Linked DNA regions of Homo sapiens: all the other regions are linked to region 3. Evidence: fine-mapped expression QTL. A gene starts in region 3. Each other region holds a variant in brackets. All regions are shown on one strand. Distances are between the middles of the regions. Region 1 overlaps CPEB2 (cytoplasmic polyadenylation element binding protein 2). Region 2 overlaps CPEB2 (cytoplasmic polyadenylation element binding protein 2). Region 3 holds the start of CPEB2 (cytoplasmic polyadenylation element binding protein 2). Region 4 overlaps C1QTNF7-AS1 (C1QTNF7 antisense RNA 1).

What was found. PIP is the estimated chance that this variant, and not a neighbour inherited with it, causes the effect. A credible set is the group of variants that fine-mapping cannot tell apart.
Region 1: its variant is the best candidate, but not a certain one, in a credible set for the expression of CPEB2 in esophagus mucosa (GTEx, PIP 0.76).
Region 2: its variant is the best candidate, but not a certain one, in a credible set for the expression of CPEB2 in whole blood (TOPMed, PIP 0.83).
Region 4: its variant is the best candidate, but not a certain one, in a credible set for the expression of CPEB2 in monocytes (Quach 2016, PIP 0.81).

What each region holds. Positions count from the first base shown.
Region 1 is chr4:15,039,539-15,045,257 of GRCh38, forward strand. CPEB2 (cytoplasmic polyadenylation element binding protein 2) reads left to right here. Exons shown (of 12, transcript NM_001177382.2): 6 at 926-949. The region is part of intron 2 of C1QTNF7-AS1 (C1QTNF7 antisense RNA 1); the gene reads right to left. Among named protein-coding and RNA genes, the nearest start is that of CPEB2, 40 kb to the left of the region's middle. The variant G/A (reference allele first, on the strand shown) is at 2,577.
Region 2 is chr4:15,053,340-15,059,058 of GRCh38, forward strand. It overlaps CPEB2 (cytoplasmic polyadenylation element binding protein 2), which reads left to right. Exons shown (of 12, transcript NM_001177382.2): 8 at 789-878; 9 at 5,082-5,200. All of the region lies in intron 2 of C1QTNF7-AS1 (C1QTNF7 antisense RNA 1), which reads right to left. Among named protein-coding and RNA genes, the nearest start is that of CPEB2, 54 kb to the left of the region's middle. The variant A/G (reference allele first, on the strand shown) is at 3,282.
Region 3 is chr4:14,999,053-15,004,771 of GRCh38, forward strand. It overlaps CPEB2 (cytoplasmic polyadenylation element binding protein 2), which reads left to right and starts at 3,429. Exons shown (of 12, transcript NM_001177382.2): 1 at 3,429-5,283. The coding sequence starts at 3,622. It overlaps CPEB2-DT (CPEB2 divergent transcript), which reads right to left and starts at 2,993. Exons shown (of 8, transcript NR_038857.1): 1 at 2,886-2,993; 2 at 2,574-2,673; 3 at 2,109-2,177. RefSeq lists enhancers at 2,418-2,467, 5,309-5,719 and silencers at 2,708-3,567, 4,068-4,377, 4,428-4,577, 4,678-4,887, 5,268-5,719.
Region 4 is chr4:15,086,685-15,092,403 of GRCh38, forward strand. All of the region lies in intron 2 of C1QTNF7-AS1 (C1QTNF7 antisense RNA 1), which reads right to left. Among named protein-coding and RNA genes, the nearest start is that of CPEB2, 87 kb to the left of the region's middle. The variant T/G (reference allele first, on the strand shown) is at 2,893.

The DNA of each region.
Region 1 (5,719 bases), 40 kb after region 3:
CTTCATATATTAATTTCAGGGTAAAAATACTCATTGTGTATTCAAATTTGTGGGGAGGAGTTCTTTTAAAACAATTTGTGGATTTTATCAAACTAGTAGTTTCTTATGAAAAAGAAATTACAGTCTTTTTTTTTTCCATAGGAATTATGTCACTGCAAGTAACATAGATAGAAATGCCTATATACTTTTATGGTATTTAACATATGTACTATTCCATGATTTTGTTAATAGTAATTTGTATCTGAATCCCTCTTACCTCATAGGTAGACACATAAACAATTAGTAGATAGCTGTTATAACATATATTAAAGTGATAGAAAGCATTATTAGCTATAGTAATTTCTCTAAACAAGTTTAACATTGATTTCTTAAATCCTGTCTAATCTGTACAGGCTTCAGAGTATCAGTTTAATGGTGGTATATCTTCTCAGTCATCTGTGTCTTCTAGCACTACTTCCATGCAGGACTTGGTATAATGTAGATTGGATCTGAACAGCTATTTATTGGACTATATATGCCATACCATTCTTTATAATAAGTAGAAAAAATAAGCATTTAGTTCAAGTTGTTTCCATTCATTGGGAAAATTATTTGGGATGCTATTTACCGCAAAGTGTTGTATATTTCTGTCTTCATTAGCTGAAACAAATACTTGTGAATTTTAACACAAATGATAATGAAATGTGTGTTTCTTGTTAATTTCAGAGTTTTATATGATTCAGATGATATATATTTACCTATAAATAAAAGTCCTTTGTAGAATGGTAAAACATTTAAATCTTATATGGTGACATTGTCATTGCTCTTAAAACAAAGTAGCACTAATTTTCAGATGCCCACATAGCTTTTCGTATCAGAAATATTTGTATATGTGGGCTTATTTTTAGTTCTGACATTTTACAATTTGTGCTTTGTTTACATGCAGCAAGGAGTTATGGGCGAAGACGAGGTAATTCATTTCTGTTTGCTATGGTATAATTGTTTCTAATGGGGTTTACTGATCAATGTTGTAATTAATTACTCTAGATTTTTCATGCAATATCTGAAAACTCACACAATTGTATTTTGATTTGAGCACTTGTCGAAGTTTTTAATTTTAAATCTCCTAACCTTTGAACTGTATTTTTATACTAATTGTGGTTATTTAATAAATTTTCCCCTTTTAAACTGCTGAGATTTAACTCTAGTTTTTAAAGTTACTTCTGTATCTCTTAAAATAAAGCTGCTGTTTATGGTTTGTCTGCTTAAATATGTTTAATATTAGTGAAGTTAGCATGAAGTATGATTTTTCTGCTCTCTAAATGTGTAACTGTCATATTTATGATGTATAATTTACAGCTCTAGATTGTTAGTTTTATGTTGACCCAGTTGAAAATAACACACACCAAATAGATTATTTTTAACAGTGATTTATAGAAATCATGTTGCTTATATTTCTCTGTTTTCTAAGAATATAACCCCTTCTTTCCCTTTCTGTCTCTCACACACACACACAAACACATACCTTCTCCCCTTTCCTTTTTCCTTTCCCTCCCCCACAAAAGTATTCCCCACAGAGTTCTTGTGTGGTATCCTAAGGAAAGAGGACTATGTGATGCAAGACTATTATTGAACTTCCTAGGAAAGTAGCTGATGTTTTCTGTGGCTAAAACTTTGCTTCTCCCTTTTCCATGTGCAGACTAGTAGATGGGATGAGAGGAAGCAAAAGTATGCTACTAGATTGTTCTTTAAATGAGCAATAATCATGATGTTTATATTGTTAGGCTTATTCCAAGTGCCACACCGAATAAAAAGAGTTTTCTTTGACCTCTAAAAATCTCCCTTAAGCCATAGAGGATAGACAGGAATAATAGTGCCCTTTGATCACTTTTTTTTTTTTTTGAGACGGAGTTTCGCTCTTGTTGCCCAGGCTGGAGTGCAGTGGCGCGATCTCGGCTCACCACAACCTCTGCTTCCCGGATTCAAGCAATTCTCCTACCTCATCCTCCCAAGTAGCTGGGATTACAGGCATGTGCCACCACACCCAGCTAAATTTTTTATTTTTAGTAGAGATGGAGTTTCTCCATGTTGGCCCGTCTGGTCTTGAATTCCTGACCTCAGGTGATCTGCCCACCTCGGCCTCCCAAAGTGCTGGGATTACAGGCATGAGCCACCTATAGACATGTGCCAGTGCTTCCATTTCTTTTCAACTAGTCATGAATGTGTGTACTTTTTAAACAACAAACAAGCAAAACCATTTGCCACGACTGACAACCAAAACTAGTATTTTATATTCTTAAGTGGTCCCAATTTTATATTTCAGATTATCTGAATTTAACTTAATTTTTTAATATGGTTTTTTCAAATGCTTGACTGAATCTTTTGGTTCTTCAGTTTTCTAACTAAAAACTTAGAGGAGACAGACACTCAAGACTTAAAAAATTGAAGCTGAACAACTTTTCTAAAAACTTAGCAAGCTGAGAAGGGGGGAGCAGTTTAGAAGTTTAGTACCTATTTTCAAATCTATGGACTAGCTTATTTCACTATGCAATTTTAGTAATGGAGCTTCAGTTCTCTGAAACACAACCCACTTACCA[G/A]TCTGTGATTTTTAGGCATTTTGAAACTATAGAGCAATTCAGAATTCTTGCCTTGTTAAACATTTTTCATCTTTTACCTGTTGTGACTTACATTTAGTCTAATTTCGTATGCTCTCATGTAAATATCATGACCTAAGAAGTTCTTAGGAACAAGGTATTAGGAAGTAATGTTATTATTTGTCTTCATCTCAGTTCAATAATTGTAGATTATGATTATATTAAGAAAAAACAAAATTTTTTTCCCTGCTTTTATATAGGAACCAGCTATCATTCCTATATATCTCTATCCCCCGTAAGCCATAAAGACTTATTCGGCTTCAGAACTGCCTTCCTGCATTGGAAGAAGGAAGACTCTCACATGGTTTTAAGGCTTCTGATAAAAGCTTCCATTACGACAGAACTGATGGTTGGCATACATATTTGGCTTAGCATAAGGGGGAGTGAATGCCTGAATTTTCATCTCAAATTATATGGCCTTAGTAAATTATGAACACTAGCAGTCTACTTTTAAAATTTTGATTGTGAGAGTCACGTGAAAGGCACACTCATTAGAAATAACTACTGAGAGATTTTATCTGAATTTTAAAGTACACTGAAACGGTAAGTAATGCAATTTTTTTAAAACCTGCATACCAAAGGAATGACTCAGAAATGGCTAGTCACCTGGTTTTCTTCCTATTTTTTACTGTTTTTTCCTATTCCATGCTAGGTATAATAAACCTCAGACTGATAACCTTTTAACCACCAAACACCCCCTTTTATATAGCCTCATGTGTTAGATTTGATCCATCAAAGAAACTGCATTTATTTAGTAATTATTTTGTGAAAAATGAGTTGCTTATCTTCTGTTCATGTCGGATGTGTCACACTGAGTTGATATAATTTTTGCTAAAAATAAGTCATGGCTCTTCTACCAGTGCAATAATGGGTGAACAGTTATTTTCACAGGACATTCTGACTTTGACTTTTGTAGTCCTGTTCAGGAAGAACTGTTTTTCTTCTTTCAGCCCAGGCACGAAACTGTTTTCATTTAAAAGATTTCTCACTTGACTACAGTCAAATCAAGTTACTACCAAAATGACTTTATGTACTTGAATTTCTTAATAATGTCAATAAGAACTTTAAATAAAGCTAGCTCCAGATATTAATTTATGAAATATACTTTAGGAATAATCAAAATGTAATTATGCTAGTAGTAGTTAAGAAAAGCAGAGATTTCTGTCCCTGCTTTTTAGTTGGAACCTACTATCACTACTGTGTATCTCTATCCCCTGGTAGCCATAAAGAGTTCTACTTTAGAGCTGCCTAGGGGGCAGCATTAGGAAGGAAAACGGTTCATATGGGGAGCTGACTTTAATATATGGAAAACTACTTATCATTTGTATTTATTTTTTATTCATTGTTTCTTCCATTCCATTCTGAGAGTGAACATACTTGTCCAGGATTGAAGTAGGATGAGGGTTGTGAAGGGAGGCGTGAAGTGTAATTTAAGTTCGATCCTTTCAACTTAAACTATTTCTATAGCACAATAAGTTCCTTTAATAAAGGATTAAAGGGCTACTGTGTTCCAAAAGGAATAAAAATATATAGAATATTTTTAGTAATATAAATAAAAACGTAGTTTAGTTAATGGTTCTAAGACCCGGAAGGCAATCCTTTTAAGCAAGGAAACCCAGAGCTTGAGTTAGTAGATTACATATGGGATGAGAAGATAGGAGAAATAATTTTAAAGGGAGACAAATGATGGAAAGGTTAATTAGAGAAGTTTGATTTATTCATAGTGTATAGTCATTCAGACTTACGTGCTATAATAAATAAGGAATTATTAATAATATAGTATACTGCTTTGAAGTTGATCCAGGATTTTCAATTTGGAACAATTGTGAAGTACCCAGGGTAACTGTACACTCCCTAATAACATCACTGCCAGATATTTTTATGATGAAATCAAGGCTGAAATCCTTGATAAATAACTTCAATAATTGTGAGAGAGTGGGCAAGATCTCTGAAGCATGAAAAAAAAGCTGGGGTAACACTAATACAGGGGTCAGGAAACCATGGCCCGCAGGCCAAGGCTTCTGTTTTTGTAAACAAAGTTTTATTGAAATGCAGCCAGTATTTATTCATTGACTTTTGTCTGGCTGCCTTGAAACTACAATGATAGCACAGTTGAGTAATTCCAACAGAAAATGTCTGGTCTTCAAAATGTAAAATATTATATTTAATACTGACCCTTTAAAGAAAAAAATTTGCTGACCTCCCTTTCCTAACCTTTAAGAGACTGGTAGTGTCTGCTCTACACCTATACCCAGCAATATGAATTTTTATAGAAAACAAATTTTAGTAAACCTAATTTTAAAGCATATATATCTAGAAATTAAATAAAATTTACAAAGACATATAAGGTCATAGATTATAAATTTTTTAAGTAAATTATCTTCTTTATCCTTAATGAGAAAGGTACAAACCTATTGGAGCAAAACATTTTTAAGCCGTTAGTGTGTACATTATGGTGCCTTTCTCAGTTATTTGCAGAATCATACCCGAGTGTATTTGATTAAACAGATAATGCTGAAAATAGATCAATCTGAAATATACTTCTGTTGTTTTGATAGTTTTTTAAATTAATGTTTGGTAACATTAGCATAGCGCCCAGTGTCAGAGTTAGTAACCACCTATAACTTCTCTAACATACATGGATGTGTGCCGCACATACACCTACACACACACGGAGACCAGAGACCATAGGGGATAGCCATTATTCTCGTTTTGCTCTTCCTTCTCTTATTACTTCATTCATCTATAATCTTTATTATAACTACTATTTTGCCTTTAAAATTATACATTTTAGGTAGCAAACTTAATGTAAGCTATTATACTTGCATTTGTAGGTAGGGTTCTTGAACTCATAGTTAAGAATATCTCCTGTTTTCTGTATTTTACCTTAATATGGCCTTTGGAATATTTCTCTGTGCTTTTGGCTAAGCAAATATCTTCTACCGAAGGAAGGCTTTTTCCCTCTACTTCTTTTTCTCCTCTATCCTTTTCTGTCTATAACTATCTCATTCTTTGTAAATCATTCTCTTTTAAAGAACCTTTAATTAGAATCTCACTCCAGCCTGGGTTATAATTAATCTTCTCTG
Region 2 (5,719 bases), 54 kb after region 3:
AATGTGCTCTTAGAAACAGGGAAGAAAGAGGCTATTAAACCCGAAAGGGAAATGGAAACAGAACATGAATAGGAAATTAGGGTTTCACAAACACTAGTAATTGTATGTGATAACAAAAGAAAATTAATTGAAGACTTAAAATATTAAGCTATATTTGTGAGGTTATGGGAAATGTATCACTCATTCTTACATTTTAGGAAATTTTTTAGTTATGATTCAGATATCCACAAACTTAATTCTAAGTATTGATCTTCATAAGCTTTCTATGTAATGAAATAACGTAAGACATAGCAATTGGATGTAACCTATGTGGATTTCAGTGAAACTACCAGGCATGTATCAGACCCTTGTATATTTTTTCAACATTGTAGTTATTCAAGTCTTGTTTTAGCAGACCTTTTTTCCTATAATAAAATGATTTTATTTGTGAAGCAGTAATAGATTTTATTTATATATGTTGGCATTTTTTTCAATCCAGTGCTATTTGTGGTTTGGTGTACTATAAAGTCATTAGTATCCATACAATGTTATATAAAATTTTAAAATTCACATGGAATTGAGTATTCTAACCAATGCATTGCTTAAAAGTGAATTTATTTTGACAAAAATTGTTAATCTTGACATATTATTTTAATAAGTATATTAGACATATTCCCAGTGTTTATATTCTAATTTATCTTAAGGTATTTGGCACTTTTAAATGTTAAATCTTCATAGTAACAGTACAGAATTTCTTAGAACGAATCACTGAAACTAATTTCTAATGTGTATTATTGTACTTTCTTAAGATGAAATAACTGCTAGCTTCAGAAGATTTGGGCCTTTGGTAGTAGATTGGCCTCATAAAGCAGAAAGCAAGTCCTATTTTCCACCAAAAGGTAAGGATTGTTATTGTTAATATTTGCTAGGAAATTGGTTGTATGAGAGCAAAAGAAAGAATAGCAATTACTTAGCCAGTTAGGAATCATAAGAGACTTGCTATGATTTGATAATTTCATAGACTCAGATCAACAAATGTTTGAGTATTTTCTCTGTCTAAAGCATCATTTCAAGTAACTTGGGTATAGACATATGAAACAATATCTCTCTGCATTATGAAATTAAGATCTATGTGAAGTGATTGGTCTTTCATAAAATATAAATTTATGAACAGTTGAAATATCAGATTTACATTAAATGTTCTAGATAACAGCAGAGCAGTAGAAATTATTACCAACTGTTGATGAATAAATAATTTAGATAAAAGACAAAGTAGCTAGTTGGGTCTATTTTTTTTTTCAATTATATAAAGATGTAAAACTTGAGGAAGATGCTTAGTTATGTTAGTCAGTTATTGCTAGGAAGACACCGTGGCTGATCACCACAGGACAAGAATTACAAATTGTGCTAACCTTCACATGCAAGTCGCATGATCAAGTCACCATCTGTGGGGAGAGGAAGTATATCCTGCCCCCAATAACAAGAGGAAGAGAGGAGAAAGGAGTCTTGAACATTAATTCAGCTAGTCAGAATTGCTAATGGAAGGTTCTCTGAAATGAATAAAAAAAAGAGGGGAGGTTCAAAGATTAAGACTTTACTTTAAACATTGCTGAAATATAATTTTAGAAAAAGCACACCACACATACTATTCAGTTTCATGACTTAGTGAATTGTCAAGCCTGGAGAAAAGACCCCAATAGAACTGTTAAATGGTTTGATTTTGACTCTGGGAAATGAAGCATGATAAAGAAGTTATTAGCACATAAAAACTAGGTACAGGTTTCTGGTGATGAATTATATGAGTCATATCTACTTTCTGCCATTGAGAATTATAGAACCTTCACTAATAGTTCACATAGTTTTTTAGATAAATGGAGTAATGCAATGTTTTTTTAATACTTGCAGATTCTATATGTATGTAGGGAATCAAGAGCATCTTTTGAGTAGGGATTCTGGATCCCAGGCCTCTATGAGAATCTGATTAAAGCTATCTACCTCTCTCCATGTAGTCTGGAGTTCATTGGAGGTCACAAAACCTTGGTATAGACAGGAAATTATCTCCACATAGATAGAGATGTTTATTTATTAGCTTAGTTTTAGTGTTGTCCATAGTTTTACTCTCTTGCCATTTCATAAAGTTTACTTTATAAATGCCATTTTTATTGAATACTCAAGAGTATTGAGTTATTTTGTAATGTTCCCGACTAAGCTACCATCATCACTTGCCTGGACTGCTTCAGCTGTCTTTCTAGTCTCTCCACATCTCTAGCCCTCTTCAGTTTTCTCCTATCGTCCAGTCACAGCAGTCTTTGAAAACTCATTGGATGGTGCTATTCCTTACTTACCTGCATAAACCCTTTAATGGTTTCTCTTATTTTTAGGATAAAAGCAAAAATGCATTCCTTCTGCCTGGCCTTGCCTTCTTTCTAGCTTCTTCTACTATTGCTGCTTGTTTCCTTCCAGTCCCACAAACTGGCCTTGTTCTCTCCAGCCTCAGTGCTTTTATGTATGATACTCTCTAGACTGATTGTATCTCTTCCTTAGGTCTCTTTATATATTCCCTACTTATCTTTTGTATCTCAAGCTTAAGTGTAAGTTGATCACAGAAAACATTGAGGATCTACCAAATGAGGTCAGTTCCTCCTGCCCAACTCCTAGTGCTGTCTGTGTCTTTCACTCCTAGCACTCATCACAGTTGCAGTATTACATTTTTACAACTTTAAACATTTGTAATTATTTTATTAATGTCAGTTTCTTTCAATGGTCTGTAAAATAGTGTCTTTATTCACCTTTGTGAATGTTCATATTCTCAATAATTCACGGATTGTTAACTGCCTAATAAATGAGATAACAAAAAATACTATAGGGTGGAGAAATTACTTCAAGTAGATGGGGGAAAGCTTCACTGAGAGGTTTGGAATTAATCTAAGGTATTGTATATAGATAGATAAAAAGCACTTGAACAGCGTTCCAGGCAGGAATGGAAATAGAATTTTAAAAAGGAATTAGAAATTGTTTGGATGGAGAAAGATGCAGATTTTTGCATGAGCTACTTGTTCACTTACAAGGATGGTGTACTTTAAGCCTAGAAAGATGGGATGGAACATATTTAATGAAACAGAATAGTTGTTGTCTTTATTGGTATTGTTGCTATCGTTATTGTGGTTTTGCAGTATTTAGTTTCTCTAATCGAAAAAATAAAATTGGCACTGGCAAATCATAGTTTTTTTGGTACAATTACAGTTAAATGTAGACATTTCCAAAGACCAGTATCCCCAAACCTTGTTCTTTCAAGCAATTTT[A/G]TTATTTCTGTAATTCAGCATTTTCCATGGTTTGGAAAACACTGGTATAGAAGCATCCAGTGGGTGAAGCTACCTTGTAATTACAGCAGTGACTAGAGTCCCTTAGATGCTAAGCCACACATGTACGTAAGTTTCCTTTGCAGTGAATAACCTTCACCTTAAGTGATTATTAGCTTGCTTTAACAAATTCGAAAGAAGCTATTATGTAGTATGTTTTTGTTAAGAATATTTTAATATCTAATGACTTGCATCAGGTAAGTCATAATTTACCTGATATGGCTTAATTTTTGTAATATAAACATTCCCTAATAATAACAAAAATTGAGCAATATTAAAGATATTGAATTTAGAGTATTACTTTAAATTAAGCAATATTAAAATATTAATATCAAAAATTATGAAAATTGGCCAACATTAAAATATTGAATTTAATATACTATTTTAGTAAATTGGTCTTATATCCTTTTAATTATTACAAAATACTTGTAGTTCCCAGATTATTATTTTGTATCAAAATTAAAGCCTTAAAAAAATCTTCATTATTTTCAAGAATATTGAAATTGTTTCCAGCAGTGTAAAAAATCTAAGACATGTTTTTTAATCCTGTGTAATCTTACCTTTGGAAGTTTGTATTTATATAGGGTGAAATCATTTATATAAGGTGAAATGGCTCCAGGTATTTTTTATGCAAACAGGTATTTTTATTTTATTAAAATGAAGTACTTTAGTGTCACATCAGACTTTTGTGGCATAAAGCTATGGTTGACAATAAGCTGAGTTTTCTGACTTCAGTAAAACATGACCTTACATTTCCCATTATACGATGGAACAGACATACATGGCTTGCCTGATGTCTGCTTTGTACTGGGACTAGATTAAAATGCTGTACATTTGTTCGCATAGAAATCTTGCCAAGGTAATGGATAGATCATTTATAGCTATCACCTGCTGGGAATAATCACATAATAGTAAACTTGCAGTGTAAATTTTGATGCCTTCTTTTTATAATGTAGTCTATTCTGTCTGCTGGATACATGATTTTTTATTAAAGATTGACAATTGGTTGTTTACAAGTCTAGATAGTCTCCAGACAGTTTGAAAAATGTATTCCACTGCTTTCCAAGTTGAGGCTTGATTTAAAAGTTTTGATCCATCTGACCCATGTTTTATTAAGGAACATGTTTCATTCCAGCCTTCCTACTGTAGCTTTCTTAGTATCATTGGGAAGTTTTCATGAGACTGTGGAATGTTTCCTCTGCTTAGGGGATTTCCTGGACCTTTCCAAGTGCGTTCCAGTCTAAAAGTCTAGAACTTGGATTAACCTGAGGGCATTTATAGCAAACTCTAGCTCCAGATATACTCACCTGGTTAATTCTGCCAAGCTCTTTAAGAAGGTAGTATCACTACTAGAAAGCGCATGGGAGACCTTGGGGCTGACCTCGGTTTGAAATTATTCAACCATTTACTATGAGACTGACTTTGGTGGTACTTTGATTTTTTTCTTCTGTAAAACAGGAATAATATTTCATAGACTTTTGAGAATCAAATACTAATGCATGTAAGTTAATACAGTATCTGATAGCAAGTGTTCTATATAAAGTAGCCAATTGCTTTACTGAGTATCTGTTTTAATGTGTATTACATAAGATATTGTGTTCTCTTGTAGAAGGTAAATGGTTTTTCATCCTATTTGATAGTTTGTTTTTTTTTTTCAAAAGCATGTATTTTCTAAATAGTACTGAAATTTGGAGTAAAATCACTTGGCTTGACATATTGCCTCATCTTTAATGGTTATTCCAGGCTATGCATTTCTTCTCTTTCAAGAAGAGAGCTCAGTTCAGGCACTCATTGATGCTTGTATTGAAGAAGATGGAAAACTCTATCTGTGTGTTTCTAGCCCTACTATCAAGGACAAACCAGTAAGTAAATACCACATGAACTTCAGGCTACAAATGCAAATTTTTCAAAAATTGTTTTGAAATGATTGTTAATTAATAAAAGAACAATTAAACTACCATGTTGAGTTTTAGTTTTTGAAACATCCAGATAATTTATAGCAGGAGTCCCCAACCCCTGGGCAGTGGACCAGTACTGGTGGTCCATGATCTTTTAGGAACCAGGCCACACAGCAGGAGATGAGTGGCAGGCAAGCCAGCATTACTGCCTGAGCTCTGCCTCCTGTCAGATCAGAGATGGCACTCTATTCTCATAGGAATGCGAACCCTATTGTGAACTGCACGTGCGAGTGATCTAGGTTGCATGTTCTTTATGAGAATCTAATGCCTGATGATCTGAGGTGGAACACTTTGATCTCGAAACCATCCTCCACCACCTCCATCCTTAGAAAAACTGTCTTCCTCAAAATTGGTCCCTGGTGCCAAAAAGGTCAGAGACTGCGGATTTATAGTATCTAGATCAACAAAAGTTATAAAAATAAT
Region 3 (5,719 bases):
GGCCTAGTGAGGCAGGGAGTTTAATTTTTGACGTGTTTAATTTGAGGTATCTATGAGACACTCAGTCAAATGGGCAAGTCGTTCAGGCAATGTAAAAGCAGAAAAAGAAGGCAGTAGCTAAAGGAGGGAGAATATAAGGTCAAAAGGTTTTGGCTTTACTTTTCAAAGGTGAGAACTAGTAAAGCAAGTTTTTGTGCACATGGAAGTGTTTCCTGGAGAGGAAAGAGGTCATGATGAAGGACAGAGAGAGAAAACTGTTGGAGCCCATGTCTTGAGTAGGTTAGAGGTAGGATCTGCTCCGCCAGTGGAGAGGCTGGCCTTAGACAGGAGTATGGGCAGATGGGCCATCCATTGTATCGAGAGGGAAGGCAAGGTGTGCAGGGACAGATGCAGGGAGACTGTGGAAGTTTTCCTGTGGTTGCTTCTTTTTTCTCAGTGAAATAAGCATGTAGCTCAGCAGCTGAGAGTGCTACATGCTAGCAGATGCATGTAGGAGAGATGTGACAAGAGGTTTTCAGATTGAGCAGAATGTTTGAAATGGTCTAGGACAGTGGTTTTTCAGTTCATAATCTGATAGAGGGTGTTAAAACCAACTTTGTAATTTGAGATCAAACGTGATTTTAAAATGAAAATAGAATTATAAAAAGGAGTTTGTTGCATTATTAAAAGAATTGCTTAATAGCAGCTTTATTTCAGTTGCATGAGTGTGTACTTGCACATATATTGGGTTGTAGCAAAAATACTTTTAAAAATACTTGCCCAGGACAGTGGGAGTAAATGAATAAGGGACTGTCAAATACAAAGTCAAGGTCCTAGTTAATGATCATGAGTCAAAATATTTTCATGTAAAAAACCAAAAAAATCATTGAATGGACTCATAAGATCTTGGCATGGAAACTGCTAGAGGACCATAGTCCCTCCTCAGTATTTGCTGCTCCTTCTCCCTACCCCACTCCACTCTCCACCCTAGGAAACCTTTTCATTTGAATATTTTCAATAAGGGCAAGATCACCAGCTTACAAGATGTCAGAAAGTAACTTTCTGCTCTAAAAAAATGGGGCCCTCACAAAAGTAGTGAGTAGAGGCCCTGGCAGGATTTGGAATTTGGTGTATTTAATATGAAGTTTGACATTATTATGTAATAACAAACTTGATGGCTTTTCCCCGTTTCAGAGAGCTCTAAATCCTCTAAGACAAAACTAGTACCAGAGCACTAAGAAATCTTGTTTTTGTTCAAAACTCTAGCCCAGAAAGGCACCAGTTAGCTTTTAAAAGTATGTGCTCTCTCCTCTTTACTAACTGCGGTGTTAGTGGATAATTGAGCTAAGGTTTATACCTGTATTTTCCCCCTATTTCAAGATTTGTTGTTGGATCTGCAAATGATTCCAATCAAATACAACTGTACTTGGAAAAAAATCATCCGTTGTTAAGACTTTACATTCCTTAGTTGCAGAAGTAGTTTTTTTTCCTGCACAATACCTTTTAAAAAATGAATATTTAATATGTCAATATATACTCTGAAAATAACCATTTATATTTTAAATTCTGAGCTCAGGTTATTTTCTAGACATTGTAATTTAGAATAAAAATACTTCTCCAGTTCTACATTTTGCCTGACTGTTAAAAATGATTTTGAGATTAATAAGTTGAACCAATTTTCTATTCACCTGACCAAATTCTGAACCATTTGAGTTTTTTAAAAAGTACTTTTTCCTTATTGTAAAGGCAACATAAAACTTGGTTCATTGGACAGGATAGCAGAGATAAACATTATACATGAAGTATAGTTCCCTGGGGCAATGTTGCTCTCTTTCTACCATGTTTATTTCGATTTATATAAATTTGAGACACTGAACAGAAGTAGAATTCAAATAGAGAATGAGGACTTATAAAAATGTACACTCTGCCTACATCAGTAAGAGTATGCTAATTTATAAAATTAAATATTTAATCTTAGTTCACTTGTAAACCAAAATCAAGTAAAGTCTGAATCCACCTTCTATTGCTTTGGGGGTTTGAGTCTATATTCTAGGATTCATTTAATAGTTTCATTTCTCTAAGCATCAAGCAAAACAGTTAAAATTACAAAACAGAAACATAAAGTTCACCTCATCATGTAGTATGGATCACTCTGTTATTCTTTATCTAGACCTTCAAATACTTTATGTAAAATGTTTCTATACAAAAGGAAACACAGGATTAGTTCCTCCTCTAATGCTTCTAAAGAGCTCTACCATGGAAAGCTCTCTCCCTTCCATTTTGCAAGTCTCAACAAGTCTGCTGCTGAGTCAGAACCTCCTTTTTTCCCTGATGTAAGAACTATTTCTCCCTTGAAAATTCATAAAGCTTAGGAATAAATTAGAGTCTCCCTGGGGGGAAGGGGCGGGGACGCCGGAATGAATGTGGTGGGGAGGAGTCCCACGCTGCAGCCCTGATGGCACACGAAAGGCTTTTATGAAGCGGAGCTGGCCCGGGGTTACTATGGGAGCTCGCCGTGGAACCCGTTCCACGCATCCGAGTGTGTAAATAACCACGCGGAGCGTGTTTGTTCCAGGGACTTTGTTCCTTCTTACCCAAGTGAAAATGCCTGGAATATAGCCGAGGCTTCATGTTTACCCTACAGAAACACCCTCGGCGGCTCTACGACGTCGGTGACAGCACTCCTACCAGCGCCTAAAAACAGAAACAAGCTTAGAGGGCGCTACCTAGGGCTACAAGGAGGCCCTAGATCGGGGACTCGGGGTCTAGAGGTGCGCGGCGAGGCGCTCAGCGGACTTCAAGCCGGCAGAGCCCAGACGCTAGTTCACCACAGGACCCCCGGGCTGGGCCGGGCTCCCGCGTTGCGCTGGGGGCCCCTCGGGCGCCTATTTCTACGCGGGTCGCACAGTGCAGGCGCCGGTCGGGGTCCCGGGCCTCAGTTTCCCCCGCGGGCCAGCCCCGCTCTGGGAAGCCCGAGTGGTGCAGCAGGGCTTCTCCCCACCCAGGGCGGAACCGAGGTGACAGGAAGGAGGAGGCACCGCGAGGGGCGGAGACGCGTGCGACCCAGGCAGACTCTGCGCGGATCCCGCGCCAAGGAGGGGCCGTTGCCCAGGAACCGTCCCTCCCTCCCGCGCGTGCTTGCCCTCGTGCGCGCGCCCGCCCAATGCTCCCGACCACTGTTTGCCAGCCGACCCCCACCCCAACCGGCCTGTCCATTTCCCCGGGAGCGGAGAGACCCAACGGGACACGCCGCTCGCTCCCGCCCTCCCGGGAGCGCGAGCGCGCCCTCGGCTGCGTCTGCATAGTAATGAGGGGCGGGGAGGGGCGACGGGGACGCGGTGGCCTCGCGCCCGCGCGTGCCGGGACGCACCGCGGGGGGCGGCGCGATTGTGAGGTGGCGCTGACGCACGTTCCGGGGTTCTTAAGCGGCCAGGGCGGCTACGGCGACTGCGACGGCGGCGGCGGCGGCGATCGCCGCGAGGGGTGGTGGGGCCGAAGTCGGTGCCCCCTGGCTCAGTCACGGTGTCCCTCTCTCACTGACTCCCCCTCCTTCCACCACGGCCGCGCAACCCCAGCGCCGGCGGCTTCCTAGGTGGGGCAGGGGACGAGGAGCGTCTCCTCCCGCTGCCGGCGGCCTGATAAATGAGGGATTTCGGGTTTGGGGTGCTGCAGACCGCCCCGCTCCGAAGTAGCAGTCCTGGGCCCCTGTTCTGCGGCGAGGCGTATGGTCCTTACGCCGTGGGGTCCGTCAACCCGCTGCCCTCCGCCACGCCCTTCGGCCCACTGTCGCCACCACCGTTGCCTGTCACCGGCTTCTTAGAGGCCGCCTCCCCCTTCTCCGTCCCCCTCGGCGGCGGCGCGGGCAGCCCGGCCGCCGCCGCTTCCTCTTCCTCCCCGTTCCTGGCGCATCAGCAGACCATGCAGGATGAGCTGCTTCTGGGGCTGACACAGCAGCCGGCGCGGCCGCTTTCGGGGGCGGCGGCCACGGAGAAACTCCCCGACCACCACCCCGGCGGCGGCACGATCGCGGGTGTGACCCACCTCCTCCCCTCCCAGGACTTCAAACCGAGTCTGCACCACCCCTCCTCCTCCTCCGCCTCCTCCTGCTGCTGCTGCCGCACCTCCTCCCCGCAGGACTTCAGTAAGCGGCAGCAGCAGCAGCTGAGCAGCCAGAAGAGGAAAGAGTTCAGCCCTCCCCACCTTCCCCACCCTCCGGACTCGAAGCCGCCGCCGCCGCCTCCGCCGCTCCACTGCCCCGGTCGGTTCAGCCCGCCGCCGCCGCCAGCCGGCCCGCTCCTCCAGCCGGCGCAGCTCGCTCAGCGCCAGCAGCAACAGCCGCCGCAGCAGTTCAGCCTCCTGCATCAGCAGCACCTCTCGCCGCAGGACTTCGCCCCGCGGCAGCGTCCGGCAGACCTGCCCCCGCTCCCGCAGCTCCCTCCCTCGCCGCCTGCAGCCCCGCGGCGCCGCCACGGAGGCGCGGGCAGCCCTCGCAAGACCCCAGCCGCGGGCGAGGGCAGCGCCGCCGAGTCCCCCAATGCGGGCTTGGCCTCCTCGACGCCGGTGAACCCCGCGCCGGGCTCCATGGAGTCCCCCAACCACCCTCTGCTCAACAGTCCCAGTAACCTCCTGCCCGGAGGTGCGCTTGGCGCGGGCGCCTTCAGCAGCCTGCAGAGCCCGGACCTTCCACACCCGGGCGGCGGCGGCGGCGGCGGGGGCGGGGGGCCCCCAGGAGGCGGAGGGGGAGGCGGCTCCGCGTCGCCGCCGCCGCTGCCCGGCTTCGGCACCCCCTGGTCGGTGCAGACCGCGTCGCCGCCACCCCAGCCCCAGCAGCCGCCGCCGACCCAGCCGCAGCAGCAGCCGCCGCCACCCCAGCAGCCGCCCCAGCCGCAGCCGCAGCCGCCCGGCTCGTCTGCCACCACCCCGGGCGGCGGCAGCGGCGGCTCGCTCAGCGCCATGCCGCCGCCCAGCCCCGACTCAGAGAACGGCTTCTACCCCGGGCTGCCGTCGTCCATGAACCCGGCCTTCTTCCCTAGCTTCTCGCCCGTGTCGCCGCACGGCTGCACTGGGCTCAGCGTTCCGACGAGCGGCGGCGGCGGCGGCGGCTTCGGCGGCCCCTTCTCGGCTACCGCTGTGCCCCCTCCGCCGCCGCCCGCCATGAATATACCTCAACAGCAGCCCCCGCCGCCCGCGGCGCCGCAGCAGCCGCAGAGCCGGAGGTCGCCCGTCAGCCCGCAGCTCCAGCAGCAGCACCAGGCGGCGGCCGCCGCCTTCCTGCAGCAGAGGAACTCCTATAACCACCACCAGGTACGGCGGGCGGCGGCCTGGCCGCGCCGCGGGACCGGGAGACCATGGGCGGGGGACGGAGGCGGGGGCAGGGCAGCCGGGGACCCGACCTTAGCCCCGAGAGAAGCCGCGACGGGGGCCACTCGCCCAAGTGAGAGTGGAACTGAGGGCGGACAACCGTGACAGGACTCGGAACCCCAGCCCCCGGTGGGTTGGGAGGGCAGTGGCCACCGTGGGCTGTGGGGGCGTGGGAGACGAGTTCGCGCTGGGAGCCGCGGCTGGCCGGGCGCCCCCTCGAACGTCCCGGCGCAGCAGTGGGGACTGGGGCAGGGGCCGAATAGCGCCGGGGCCGCGGGCGGCCGGGCGCGGCGTCTCAACCCGGCCCTCCTAGCTGGCGCACCCCGGGATCCGCCCTGTGCCCTGGGCCTGGAGGGCCGCCGCCCCGGACCCCCGACGC
Region 4 (5,719 bases), 88 kb after region 3:
TTAAAATGGCATGCTTTTAACAGCCCCCAAGTCACCTTTTGAATGCTTTGCTGCTTAGAAATTTCTTCTACTAGATACCGTAAATCATCTCTCTCAAGTTCAAAGTTCCACGAATCTCCAGGGCAGGGGAAAAATGCTGCTAGTCTTTTTGCTAAAACATAACAAGAGTTACCTTTGCTCCAGTTCCCAACAAGTTTCTCTTCTCCATCTGAGACCACCTCAGCCTGGACCTTATCAGTGTTTTTGTCAAAGCCATTCAACAAGTCTCTAGGAGATTCCAAATTTTCCACATTTTCCTGTCTTCTTCTGAGCCCTCCAAACTGTTCCAACCTCTGCCTGTTACCCAGTTCCACAGTTGCTTCCACATTTTCAGGTATCTTTTCAGCAATTCCCCACTCTACTGGTACCAATTTATTATATTAGTCTGTTCCACACTGCTGATAAAGACATACCCAAGACTAGGAAGAAAAAGAGGTTTAATTGAACTTACAGCTATACATGGCTGGGGAGCCCACAGAATCTTGGCAATAGGCAAAAGGCACTTTTTATATGGTGGTGGAAAGAGAAAATCAGGAAGAGGCAAAAACAGAAATCCCTGATAAACCCATCAGATCTTGTGAGACTTATTCACTATCACGAGAATAGCAAGGGAAAGACTGACCCCCATGATTCAATTACCTCCCCATGGGTCCCTCCCACAACACATGGGAATTCTGGGAGATAAAATTCAAGTTGAGATTTGGATGAGGACACAGCCAAACCATATCACTATTTTTTATTTTAGCTATTTTGGTAGGTATGTAAAGATATCTCATTCTGGTTTTAATTTACATTTCTGTGATGGCTAATGATGTTGAACATTTTTCTATACATTTTTTTGCCATCTGTTTATCTTTTTTGGTGAAATGTTTCTTCATGTCTTTTGTTCATTTTGTCATTGGATTGCTTATTTTTCTTTACTGTTAAGTTTTGAGAGTTGTTTATGTATATTCTACATAATAGACCTTTATAGGATATATGGTTTGCAAATATTTTCCTCAATTCTGTAACTTGCCTTTTCATCCTCTGAACAGGGTCTTTCAATGAGCAAAAGTTTTTAATTTTAATGAAGTAAAATTGATCAAATTTTCCTTTCTATGGATGGTGCTTTTGGTATCAAGTCTAAAAACTCTTGGTGGAGCCCTAGATCCTGAAGTTTTTTTTTCCTGTTTTTTTGTTTTGTTTTGTTTTTGTTTCTGTTTTTTGTTTTTTATAAGTGATTTATTGTTTTACATTTCACATTTAAGTCTGTGATCTCTTTTGAATTAATTTTTGTACAAAGTTTGAGACTTAGGGTGAGGTCTTTCTCTTTTTCCTTCTTTTCTCCTTCTCCTTTCTTCCAGTGAGTTTCTAACTGGTCTTGTACCATTTTTTGAAAGATGATCCTTCTTCCACAGAATTACTTTTGCACCATTATAAAAATCAATTGGGCATATTTGTGTGTAGATATTTCTAGGTTCTCTATTCTGTTCCATTTATCTGTTTATCCCTCTGCAAATACCTCACTATCCTGTTTATGGTAGCTATATAACTCCTTGAAACCGGACATACAGATTCCTATCTTTTTATCCTCCTTTTCTCAAAATTGTTTCAGCTGTTCTAGTTCATGTCTTTTCAAATACATTTTAGAATAATCTTGTCAGTGTCTACAAAATATCTTGCAGGGATTTTGAGAGAAATTGTGCTATACTTGTATATCAATTTGGGGAGAACTGACATTTTACTGTGCTGTCATCCACTCCATGAACACAATATATGCCTCCCCATATATTTAGATCTTTGATTTCCTTCATCAGCATGCATTCCTTCATCAGCATTTGATTTCCTTCATCACATTTTGCCATTAAAAAAAAAAAATGGCAAAAACCGCAATTACTTTTGCACCAACCTAATAGCTTTTAGTATACAAGTCCTGCACATGTCTTAAATTTAACATAAATATTTATCTTTTTGTATGAATGTTTGTAATAGTATTTTACTTTTTATTTTGGTGTCCATGTGTCAATTGCTAGTATATAGAAATGAAGTTGATCATTGTATGTTTACCTGTGTTCACCTCTATTTTTACCTGTAAGTTACCTTTGTATGTTTACCTTTGTACCCTGCAATTTTGCTGAGCTTGCTTAAAAGTTCTAGAGATTGTTTTGTAGCTTCCCTCGGAATTTTTTACGTGACAGTTATGTCATCTGCAAACGGGACAGTTTAATTTCTTTCTTTCTGATCTGTATGCCTTTTATTTTCTTCCCTCATTGCACTGACTAAAACTTACATAGCATTATGCTGCATGAGTGGTGAGTGTGAACATTCTTGCCTTGTTCTTGATCCTAGAGGAAAACTATTGTTTTTAACTATTAAACATAACTTTAGGTTTTTTTCTAGGTGCTCTTTATCAGGTTGACGAAGTTTCCCTCTATTCCTCTATTCCTTTTTCTGGGAGTTTTTATTATTAATGGGTGTGGAACTTCATCAAGTGCTTTTTCTGCAACAATTTATACGATCCTGTGATTTTCCTCAGTAGACTGTTAATATGGGGATTATTTGATTAATTTTTGAATACTGAAGCAACATTATATCTCTGGAAGGAATCTTTTTTTTTTTTCTTTTTTTTTGAGACGGAGTCTTGCTCTGTCGCCAGGCTAGAGTGCAGTGGCGCCATCTTGGCTCACTGCAACCTCCGCCTCGGGGGTTCAAGCAATTCTCCTGCCTCAGCCTTCCGAGTAGCTGGGATTACAGGCACGCACCACCACGCCCGGCTAATTTTTTGTATTTTAGTAGAGATGGGGTTTCACCATGTTGGCCAGGATGGCCTCGATCTCCTGACCTCGCTATCCATCTGCCTCGGCCTCCGAAAGT[T/G]CTGGGATTACAGGCATAAGCCACCGCGCTGGGCTCCTGGAAGGAATCTTCCTTGGTCATGGTATATAATTTCTTTTATATATTACTGAATTATCTGTAGTATTTTGTTCACGATTTTTACATCTATAATCTTGAGGAATATTGGTCAGCTGTTTTCTTTTTTGCACAGTGTTTGTCTGGTTTTAATATCATGGTAATAGTAGCTTCAGAAATTGAATTGAGAATGTTCCCTCCTCTTCTATTTTCTGGAAGAGATTATGTAGAATTGATGTAACTTCTTTAAACATTTGGTAAAATTCTCCAGGGAAACTTTCTGGGCATGGAGATTTCTTTGGGCATGGAGAGTTTTAAATTACAAATTTAATTTCTTTAATAATTATAAGGCTATTCAAATTATTTATTTCATCTTGGGCAAGTTGTGGTTATTTGTATTTTGAGGAAGTGGTCCCTTTAGTCTAGGTTGTCATATTTACGCAGATAGAATTGGTCATACTGTTTTCTTGTTATCCTTTTGACATTTTCAGGGTATGTAGTGGCATCCCCTTTTTCATTTCTGATATTGGTGATTTCTTCCTTCTTTTTTGCTTTGTCACCCTTGATAGAGATTTGTCAATTTTATTGTTTCTTTTAAAGAATTAGCTTTTTGCTCCATTGATTTTTCTCTATTGTTTTTGTGTTTTCTATTTAATTTCTACTCTAATACTTATTTCCTCCGTTATTCTTGCTTTGAGTTTATTTCTCCCAGTTCATGAGATGAGAGCTTAGATTATTGATCTGAGGCTTTTCCTCTTTTCTAACGAATGAATTTATTGCTATAAAGTTCCCTCTCAGCACTGCTTTAGCTGCATTCCAGAAATTTTGACATGTTGTAAATTGTTTTCATTTGATTTAATGTTTTTTGTTTTGTTTTGTTTTTTAATTCCTTTCAGACTTTTTCTTTGTTCCATGGATCATTTGATTGCTTAGTTTCCAAGTGTTTGAAGATTGTCTTGTTGTTTTTCTGCTATTGATTTTCAGGTTGATTCAATGGTGAATGGAGAACACACTGTAAGATTTCGTCTTTCCAATTTGTTAAGGTTTGTTTTATGGCCCAGGATATGACTTATCTTAGTGTATGTCCTGCTTGCACTTGTCAGCTCTATTTTAAGGATATTAAAAACAAGTATCAACACTCAAGACTCCCTTGCATGGTTCCTGGCTCTTGGCTTGTGGCAGGTTATGTCTTCTTCTGGGCCCACCTGGTTCAGAGCCTGCCTTCCATCTGCATTGTTTGTGTCTCAGTAGCCAGCATTTTTTCAGTCTGTTGTTTTTCTGCAATTTTGTTTTACTCTGAGTCAGCCTACAACCTCACCGAGCTGCCTATCAGCACTGTCTCGGGTATCTGCCTAAGCATCAATTATTGTTTAGATAATTCCACTTACAAAGTCACATAGACTTTAAGTACTCTGCTCCAAGCCTATTATTATCCATAATTTCTGATATTTTTGTTCATGATTTTCACTCTTTTTGCTCCTTTATCACTATTCAGTCATAGTGAACACCAATGTAATCTCCACCCAGGTCACAAAATAAAATATTGCCGGCACCCCCGCCATGCTCCTCCTTTTCAAAGATACCTATTATCCTAACCTCTAAAAGCAAAAGTGTAATTTTAACATTATACAAATGAAATAATATAGGATGTTTGTTTTCTTTCTGATTCCTTTCAATATTGTTTGTGAGAATCATACATATCATATGTAGCTGTGGTCTGTTCATTTTTGTTGTAATAGTATTTCATTGTAAGAAAAAAACCGTATATTTATCTGCTATTTTGCTGATGGGCGTTTGGGTTGCATCCAGTCTGGAGCTATGATGAATAAGGCTGCTATGAACATTCTTACACAGGTCTCCTGGTACACATATACACACATTTCTGTCAAGAATATACTTAGGAATAGGAGTTTTCAGGTAACAGGTGATGCTTATATGCAACCTAAGTTGTTACACTATTTTCCAAAGTCATTGTACCAATTAATATTCCTACTAGCTGGGTATGAAGTTCCCATTGCTTTACAATTCCACCCAGACTTAGTATGTCAGTCTTCTAAATTTTTATCTTTCTGGTAAGCATATGGTGGTAATTTATTTTGATTTAATTTTATATTTCCCTAATGCCTAATGATGAACACCTTTCTGTGTTTATTAGCCATTTTGATATCTTTTTTTGTAGATGCCCTTTTTAAAAAAAGTTTATTGGTCTTTTTCTTATTGTCGAGTAGAAATTCTTTATGTCTTCTAGCTCAAGTCTTTTTTTGTATACATAAATTGCAAATATCTTCTCCCATCTGTGGCTAGGCATTTCATAATATTTCTTGTGTATAAAAGTAGTTAATTTTAATGTATTCCAATTTATCATACTTTTTTATTGTTGTATCTTTTTATGACCTAGTTAGGAAAATTTTAACTCTTCAAAAATCACAAAGATATGAACCTATATAGTGTTCTGAAAGCTTCACTGTTTTAACTTCATTTATTTCACCAATTCACCTGAACATTTTTTATATGGTGCAAGGTAGCAGTAAAGTTTTTTTTTTAAGTGAATATTCAGCTGAATTAGCATGTGTATTTTAAAAAGCCACTTCCCACTACTCTGGATGTCACCTTTGTCATGCATCAAGTGCCTATATGTGCATGGGATAGTTCTGGGGAACTGGAATGCATTTCGTTGCTCTGTTTGTATGATCTTGTACCATACTACATACCATTACTGTAGCTTTATAGCAAGTCTTGATATCCCTTAGAATAAGCGTTTTGTTTTTTTTTTAACATCTTTCTTCTTTTTTAT